Linked DNA regions of Homo sapiens: region 2 is linked to region 1. Evidence: fine-mapped expression QTL. A gene starts in region 1. The other region holds a variant in brackets. All regions are shown on one strand. Distances are between the middles of the regions.

Region 1 (4,391 bases):
GAATGATTCATTGTTTATTGAAATTTGATGTAACTGGGCATCCTGTATTTTCATTTGCTGAATCTGGCAACCAGACCTAGAGTTCCTTTCTAAAGGGACACTTTTCTCAGCAGCTTGGATTCCAAGGGTCTCACTCTAGGTTAGACCCCCATTTAGATTCGCTCTGGAGAGTTTTCTGAAGTCAGACTACCTGGGTTCAAACCCTGGATCTGCCACTGCTGGCTGCGTAACCCTGGACAAATGACTTAATCTCTCTCTATTCTCTGTTTTCCTATTCTAGAAAGTGGGGTTAGGAATAAGAGCCAACCTCAAAGGGCTGCTCTGAGGATCAGAGGAGAAAACAGCTGCATAGATTAAGCACATAGAAAGAGCTCATTAAAGGTACTTTCTATTCTTGGCTGTGCTTCTGGGTCTCAGTAACTTCCCTCTCTGCCTGGATTTGCTCCTGGCCATTTTCTTGGAGAGTGAGACCCATCCAGAGGGGAATGTGGGACAAGGAGGGAGGAGGAAGTAAGGACTGAGAAGGCCCAGAGACGTGCCTTCCTCTTCTTTCCAGGGTCCTGGCCTGTCTTGTCTGTTGGGCGGGTATGCTTCCTTCCTGGCCTTCCTTGTGGAGCATGTCTGGGAGTGTGCTAGGAAATGAGGGAGGAAAATATGTAACTTGATATCTGCTCCTTGACCCTGGCTGACCTGGTTAACTCTCTCCAGGATGGAAGCAAAGCCTGCCCGGGAAACCTTCCATTGCAGGAACATCTCGGCCTGAAGCTGTCATCAGGGAGCAGGATCTGCTTCCCGGACTCTGAGCAGAACAATGGGAGCCCCAGCAGGCTGGCGAGGCTGACAAGCCCTAGGACGGTGACCTCTCCGATCTCCAGATCGGAAACTCAGAAACGTGTAAGTGCCAGAATCCGCATTTGGGAATCTGTTATTTCTCCCTCTGCGAGTCAACCTGATCACCCTGGAAGCCTCACTGTCTCTCAGCCCTTGTTCCCATTTTTCTTTCCATGAACACCGCAATCAGATACGAGATTCCAGTAATGATGGTTCTTGAAAATTAAACAAATCAAAAAGAAAGCCAGCCAAGGTATGGAGTGGGGGACCTCTAAGTTCCCCTGGAGGAGACACTGGGGCCAGGTTCCGAGGTGCATTCGGAGCCAGAATCCCTAATGGAATTGAACAATTATCCTGAAGCTGCTCTCTGAAAGCCGCGGTTTTCCTAAAACACTGTGCTTGGCGTGCCTGGGCTTCTTGGCACTGGCCCATGACCCACAGCAGCAAATCGTTCCCAGGAAGCTATTGTTATTTGTGTATCTGATAGCATTCAGCTGAGTACACTGACAGCAACATTTAGAAAGGAAAAGAAAAAAGAAGCGTAGAGTGAAAAGGACAAAAAGGAGGCTTCCAACATCCTGGTGGGAACAGAAAACCAGCAAAGCCTCTTTTCCAGCCCTTATCCTTGTGAGTTTGGACTCTGCAGAACTGTCATCCCCCAGGCATAGCTGCAGCTTGTATGAAGGTGGGCATCAGGCGCGGAGATTCAGGACAGTGTGCACCTGCTTTCCTCCAACGGGACCCCCTCTGTTCTTCCCAGGAATGCCTGTAAACTGCCACTGCCTCTAGGGGCTGCACCAAGTCCCTGTGTACTCCCAGGACACAATGGAGTGGAATGGAGTGGCTCTGTTCTGTCAGGGCCTAACATTCCAAATGAATTCATTCCCTTCTGGGAAAAAAGAACCACCTTGCTCAGAGCACAATGTTCCCATGTCTTGGCTTACCTTGAAGCATTTTTGATACACCTGTTGGGACAATGCGTTCTGCCAAGAGAAGGGAAGTAGCATACTTTGTTCTATTTTTTACTCTCAATGGGCTACGTTTCCATTGTGTTGGTTTCCCTTACAGAAAGTAACACACACAGAAGAGAAGGTTATAGGATTCCATGCTGCTTGGCAAAGGCACAAAATATGTGCACATATTTACATGGAATATGAGGGTAAACTAGAAAATTAAGGGTAATCTAAAATAGAAAAAAAGAAGAAAACAATAAGTTAAAAGTATGAAAAGACATCCAGAATGAGCAAGTTACTGAGGTTGTGCCTCAACTTTAGCTTGAGTTTCCTGGCAGCAAAGGTAAAAAGGTAAGTACATTGAATCACATACTTCTTATTATCTTCTAAAAGGAATTAACGGAGTGGAATATATAAAAAGCACTGAATAACATAAGGAACAAGATCTTCAATGGTCATTTTGAAAAAGCCTCAGAAGCGTGCTTATAGATGTTTCTTCTGCTGGCTTTCTCAGCAAGATGATACTAAGATACCATCCTAACCACCTCATCTCTGCCTATAGCCCAGGCTATGCCTAGACATGCCTGGAGCTATGCCAGTGGTTCAAGGGGTTTCTACAAACACTTGCTTCTACCTTTGCTTTAAATTGGTTTCTTCTCCTCTGATTTCTCTGGTCTCCACCTGTTTCTTGATTCTCCAGCTATATTTGACACATCTAACCGGATTCATGAGTCTTTAGCCTGTCTGTGGGTTGGCTTGCAGGCTCACTGACCCCAGCAAACTCCCATGCCTGGCCTTGGGTCCTGCCCACCCACCTCCATGTCCTGCCTAAGTCTCGGGTCACATGGCCAGCCCCAGTCCAGGCCAAGAATAGGTTGCTGCTCATTCAAAACAAAATGACACTAAACATCAGCCCTCAATAGAGAGGAATTAAATCTTAACTTTGTAAAATAATTTCAGCAGGGAGTTGAGAAAATACAGCATAACTATGTTGATATTTGATTATTTAATTTAATAAAGATCTAGTGTAGGCCAGGCATGGTGGCTCGCACCTGTAATCCCAGCACTTTGGGAGGCCAAGACACGCGGATCACCTGAGGTCAGGAGTTCAAGACCAGCTTGACCAAATGGTGAAACCCTGTCTCTACTAAAAATACAAAAATTAGCCAGGCATGGTGGCGCATGCCTGTAATCCCAGCTACTTGGGAGGCTGAGGCAGGAGGATCGCTTGACCCCCGGTGGCAGAGGTTGCAGTGTGCCAAGATTGTGCCATTGCACTCCAGCCTGGGCAATAGAGTGAGACTCTGTCTCAAAAAAAAAAAAAAAAAAAAAAAAAAGGATTTAGTGTAAAGAGATTAAAGTAATGACTAGCCAACATATCCATTGATCTGCTTCTCTTGCGTGTCCTATGTCCCTACAAAACTTTGGGCTAAGTGCTAGAAGGTAGTGAATTCAAAGTTGCCTTATCCGGCAAGAGACAGTGAGGACATCCTGAGTTTAAAACTGAAGAGTTGCATCTCTGCTGTGGATGTGACAAGTGTGAGCTGCTGTTTAGAAGGGACAATGGAGAAGCCTGACTTGCCTCCTCCCCCAGCAGGGACATCATTCTATTTGACATCGTGGTGAGATCCAGAGTTCCTCAGGGTTTAGCCAACGTTTCCATCAGAAAAGGAGCTGTGAATCCATTCAAGTTCTTGCTCAAGGACTTGGCTGGGACCCCAGAATTCCACTCCATCTAGCATGAAAGAGATGATTTAGAACTGAAAGGTTTTAGTCCAGCTGTTACCAGTCAGCCACCTTGATCATAAAAGAACCTCTGTTTGGCTCTTGTGCAATCTCTAGTTTTAAGTAGGACCACACACTGCTGGTCTGCAAATTTGAGTTAGCAAAATATACCTCTAGGTGGTAGGGTGATTGTTCTATTGGCTGAAATTGCTTGATTTGTTCTGTTTTAACACCATCAATGGAGAATATCTTCCCAAAACAAAAAAATGTTGCTGATGATATTAATAAGTTGTTCTATCAGGCAATAATTAGACCAGAGGTTCAGTTGCTTCTGAAGTTGTTGTCCTATTGCTAGGTAATAAAACCATGTTCTCAGCAAAGAGGATGTCATCTTCCTGTTTCCTCTAGCTGGAGGACGTGTATTCAATGTATTCAAATATATTTTAAAATTTGCATTTGACCTGTCAGAATAGGTTTTTTTTTTTTAAAAAAATATATATTCTGATTTAGCACTAGGATTATGCTGCAGCTGGAGGGCCTGAGGATCTATTTTAAGATTAGTTTTTTTTGTAGCAAGATGTTTCCTTTTTATGAAAATCAAGCCTGGGGCAGGGGAGAATATGTAGATATTTAGGGTGGGACAGTCCTTTTTTTTTTTTTTGAGATGGAGCCTTGCTTCGTTGCCCAGGCTGGAGTGCAGTGATGCGATCTTGGCTCACTGCAACCTTCACCTCCCGGGTTCAGCGATTCTGCTGTCTCAGCCTCCCGAGTAGCTGGGATGACAGGAGTGTGCCACCACGCCCAGCTAATTTTTTTTTTTTTTTTTTTTTTTTTGAGACAGTCTCATTCTGTCACCAGGCTGGAGTGCAGTGGTGTGATATT
Region 2 (4,391 bases), 75 kb before region 1:
CCCAAAGCTCATGCAATATTAGTATATGAAACAAACCACAAGACTGGGCAACAGAGTGAGACCCCATCTCTACAAAAAATAAAAAAAATTTGCGCATGGCAGCGTGTGCCTGTAATCACAGCTACTCACGAGGCTGAGGCAGGAGTATTGCGTGAGCCCATGAGTTGGAGGCTGCAGTGAGCTAGGAATGCACCACTGCACTCCAGCCTGGGCAACAGAGTGGGACCTGGCCTCGAAAACAACAATAACAACAGCAACAACAGCAAACCACAACAAACCACAGTGTTCTCACTGGGAGTTAATGGGACCGACATATTAACAACATTATAGGGAGTACTGTGTTCTGTTTCATGGCTACATTTTAAGACAGATGTTTGCAAATTTCATCAAATCCAGGCGAGAGCATTTAGGATGAGGAAGTGTTCAGGTCCAGCTTCAATGACTGAAGGGAATGGTGATGTCTAGTCCCCAAAAGAATAGCTCTAGCAGTGGGAAGGCGGGGGCTAGCGAACTGGAGCACGGTTTTCTTCGAGATTAGATGTGTTAAGTGCTGGTGCATGGAAGGAGGACCAACTAAGTGGAAAGGGTCAGGAAGCGGGGCTTAAAAGTGAGGCTGGGCTCGGTGGCTCACGCCTGTAATCCCAGCACTTTGGGAGGCTGAGGCGGGCGGATCACAAGGTCAGGAGATCGAGACCATCCTGGCTAACACGGTGAAACCCCGTCTCTACTAAAAATACAAAAAATTAGCCGGGCATGGTGGTGGGTGCCTGTAGTCCCAGCTACTCGGGAGGCTGAGGCAGGAGAATAGCATGAACCTGGGAGGCGGAGCTTGCAGTGAGCCGAGATCACGCCACTGCACTCCAGACTGGGCGACAGAGTGACTCTATCTCAAAAAAAAAAAAAAAAAGTGGGCAGATTTTGTGGTGACTGCACAAAGGGCTTTGTGCCACTCAGAGCTGCTACCCAAGGAGGTGGCTTTCTGGAAGCGGTGGGTGAGTGTCCTCTCCCTGGAGTGTTCCTGCAGAGGCTGGGCACCACCTGTGCTCCCGCTGCAGAGGGAATCCCTGCTCCCTGTGGGCGGTTGGCCTCCTGACCTCTGAGGTCCCTTCTGGCTCTTGGAGTCAGGGACCAGGCACGGCGAACAAAGAGCTCCAGTTGGGGGGTTGGCTCAGGCACTGTGGTTTCCCAACACTAGTAATTTGTATTCAGAGAACAAACACAACATTGTCTGAATTCACCACTGCTGAAGGCACAGACTTGGAGAAGTCGCAATGATCTGCAATGGCACTGACGGCAGGTCAACTGGAACTGCAAAATCTCTCAAGATGGAAGCCAGTATCTCATCTATGAGCCCTGCTACACCCTGTGGCTGCCTGACCGTGGCTCTGGCTGTGAAGTCTTTAGGTTTCATTCTCTCTTCCCCACCAGGGAAGGGTCTCAGGGAGCCCCGCTCAGCTCCATCATCTGCCTGGTCACCGCTGTAGATTGTTCACTTTGGCTTTGCCTCCCATCTTCTTCCTTGGGTCTATGGCTGGTCCTCACACTCCGAGGATCCTGGATCTCACTTTTCCTTTGCTTCTACATCTACTCTTAAGGCCCAGCCCTGCCCATTCCCCTTCTGGATTTTGGGGATCCCAGCCCAGGTCAAGGTCTTTATTGCCCTTGAGCAAAGGCCCAACTAGTGTGTAGTAATAGTGCCATTTATTGACTAACATATGCCAGATGTTGAACAGTCTCTATTTCACCTAGTCCCATAATGACAGTTCAGAGCAGGTGTTATACCCATTTTACAGAAGAGGAACCTGAGGCTCCAAGGCTCAGTAACTTGCCTGAGGTTCCCCAGTGTGTGGTAGAGCTAGAATTCAAATCTCTGTTTGTAGATTCAATGTACAATGTAGAATTCAAATCTCTCTGTAAATTCAAATCTACATTTTTCTCTAGTGTCTCATGCCGATCATGCTGACGTCAGCACCTCACTAAAACCATACCATATTTTCAGTAAATATGTGTTGATTATTTCTTTTGTATTTGTTTGCTTGTTTTTAGGAGAAGAAGAAAAACATTCTACTCATTTCCCCCCAAAAAAGAAAGAAACAGAAGAAAAAGATAATCTCACATGGCTTTGAAATAAACAGTGGCCGAGCACATTTAAAACGAAAGCTTTGTGTGAGAGAAATCTGCTTT[G/A]AGGTTTTATACTTGGATTGTTCTAAGTAGGAAAAGAATTGTCTCTGTGTGCTCACCGAAGTTTTGGCTCTCAAAACAGTGTTTTAAAAAAGTTTCAATATAGCAGGGATGACATACTTCCTGATAAAGATTCTCATCACCAAGAAGTGGCTTTAGTGTGATGAATACCAAGTCAGGTGACAAATTATGCAGCTCCTAGCTAGGGTGTGATTCGGATTGACAAACACAGGAGGGATAAGCATGCGGATATTAATATTGTTGGGAGATTCTTTAATTCTGCCCAATTCTTCTATCTGGTTCTATCTTAATATCCATCACAGATTTTTTTTTTTTTTTTGAGATGGAGACTCGCTTTGTCGCCCAGTCTGGAGTACAGTGGCGCAATCTTGGCTCACTGCAAACTGCAACCTCCACCTCCTGGGTTCACGTGATTCTCCTGCCTCACCCTCCTGAGTAACTGGGATTATGGTCATGCACCACCATGCCCAGTTAATTTTTATATTTTCAGTAGAGATGGGATTTCACCATGTTGGCCAGGCTGGTCTTGAACTCCTGGCCTCAAGCAATCCACCTGCCTTGGCCTCCCAAAGTGCTGGGATTACAGGTGTGAGTCACCATGCCCGGCCCACAGATTTTATTTAATAATATACACACACTGTACTTTCATTCTCTCTAGGGGGTAAACAAACAAATCAAGGACTGTAAATATCAAACTTCAGAAAAGAGTAACCAAGCAGGACACAAACCCAACAGCTCACCCTTTCTCATTCCCCAGTTGGCAGGGCTGGCACCGAAGGTCCCTCTCTTTGCAACACCCGGCAAAGGGGACAGGAAATCTGAGCCACAGTTGGGCACTGGCACTCACAAGGTGCATGGCCTTGGGTGAGCCCTTTGATCAGTTTCTGCTCCTCAGTTTTGTTGCTGATAGCACGGGGAGTATTAGGATCTCAAAGAGCTGCAGGAAAGTTCAGAGGATGTGGTGTGGGCAAGCGCACTGTCAACTGTAAATCACTCTACAAAAAGTGATCACTATTACCTTAGTCAACAGGCATTTCCCAGTGCGGAGAATTCAGCTGACCTGCTGTTGAAAAGGAGACACTCCACCTAAAACTGCTTTCTCTTCCCCAGCACTGAGATTTATTCTTCTCCTTTGTTTTCATTACTTCCTATATTGCATGTTTATTTATTTGTCCATTGTCTGTTTCCCTGTATTAGAATGTGGGTTTCTTGCAGGCCTGGCTTTGGTCTGTTTAGTTCTCTGTTGTATCTCCAGAGCCTTGAACAGTGCCTGGAACATACTAGGCTCAATACACCATTTTTGAATTAATGAATGCTAAATGACGTCTCCAGTCTAAATGACCCCCATCTTAGCCCCCAGCTCTGATATTATGAACAAGCAGTAAAAATGTCACGTAGAATTTTAGAAACTTGAACTTTCAAAGCAGGATGTTAGAGTGGTTCATTTATTTATTTATTTATTTATTCATTCCCTTAACTAATTTTCAGTCAAGTACTATGTGCAAAGCTCTAGGCTCTGCTACATGTCTGTTACGAATATCAGTCAATACAATTTTCTTTTTTTTGAGAGAGAGTCTCACTCTGTCGCCCAGGCTGGAGTGCAGTGGTGTGATCTCGGCTCACTGCAACCTCTGCCTTCCGGATTCAAGTGATTCTCCTGCCTCAGCCTCCTGAGTAGCTGGGATTACAGGTGTGCACCACCACACCTGGCTAATTTTTATATTTTTAGTAGAGATGGGGTTTTGCCATGTTGGTCAGGCTGGTCTCGAACTCCTGACCACAGTGATCCGCCTGCCTCGGCCTCCCAAAATGCTGGGATTACAGGCATGAGCCATCATGCCCCGCCAGTCAATACTGTTATAAAACAAAGCAAAATGGTTTTTTGTAAGAAAAAAAAAAAAAGCTTTCAAATACATATTTAAATGACAAATGCCCCCCTAATTTCCTATTTATGCCCAAATGATTCTATCTGATGTCTTCACAGCTGATTTACAGGCATCTGTGGTCTGGTGGCTTCTTTCTAGAATTAGGAAGCTCATCTTAATTTCCAAAGTGACATCTAGTTAGATGCCTAGGGGAAGGTATCGTATGGTCCAATTTCTTCCACACTTGTTTCTAAACTCATTGTAATTACTGGAGATGTGGGTTTCAGAGAGGGCATGAATAAGTACAGTTGATGTGTAGGAAAA

Direction of the effects. Alleles are on the strand shown, and positions count from the first base shown. SD is a standard deviation of normalised expression in the study named.
As copies of A replace G in region 2, the expression in lymphoblastoid cells of the gene that starts at base 1,723 in region 1 goes down (moderate effect, 0.42 SD a copy in GTEx).

What was found.
Region 2: its variant is fine-mapped to the expression of FRMD4A-AS2 in lymphoblastoid cells (GTEx, PIP 0.99).

Annotation. Positions count from the first base shown.
Region 1 is chr10:13,989,858-13,994,248 of GRCh38, forward strand. FRMD4A-AS2 (FRMD4A antisense RNA 2) reads left to right here and starts at 1,723. Exons shown (of 3, transcript NR_199003.1): 1 at 1,723-2,135. The region is part of intron 2 of FRMD4A (FERM domain containing 4A); the gene reads right to left.
Region 2 is chr10:13,914,780-13,919,170 of GRCh38, forward strand. All of the region lies in intron 2 of FRMD4A (FERM domain containing 4A), which reads right to left. Among named protein-coding and RNA genes, the nearest start is that of FRMD4A-AS2, 75 kb to the right of the region's middle. The variant G/A (reference allele first, on the strand shown) is at 2,185.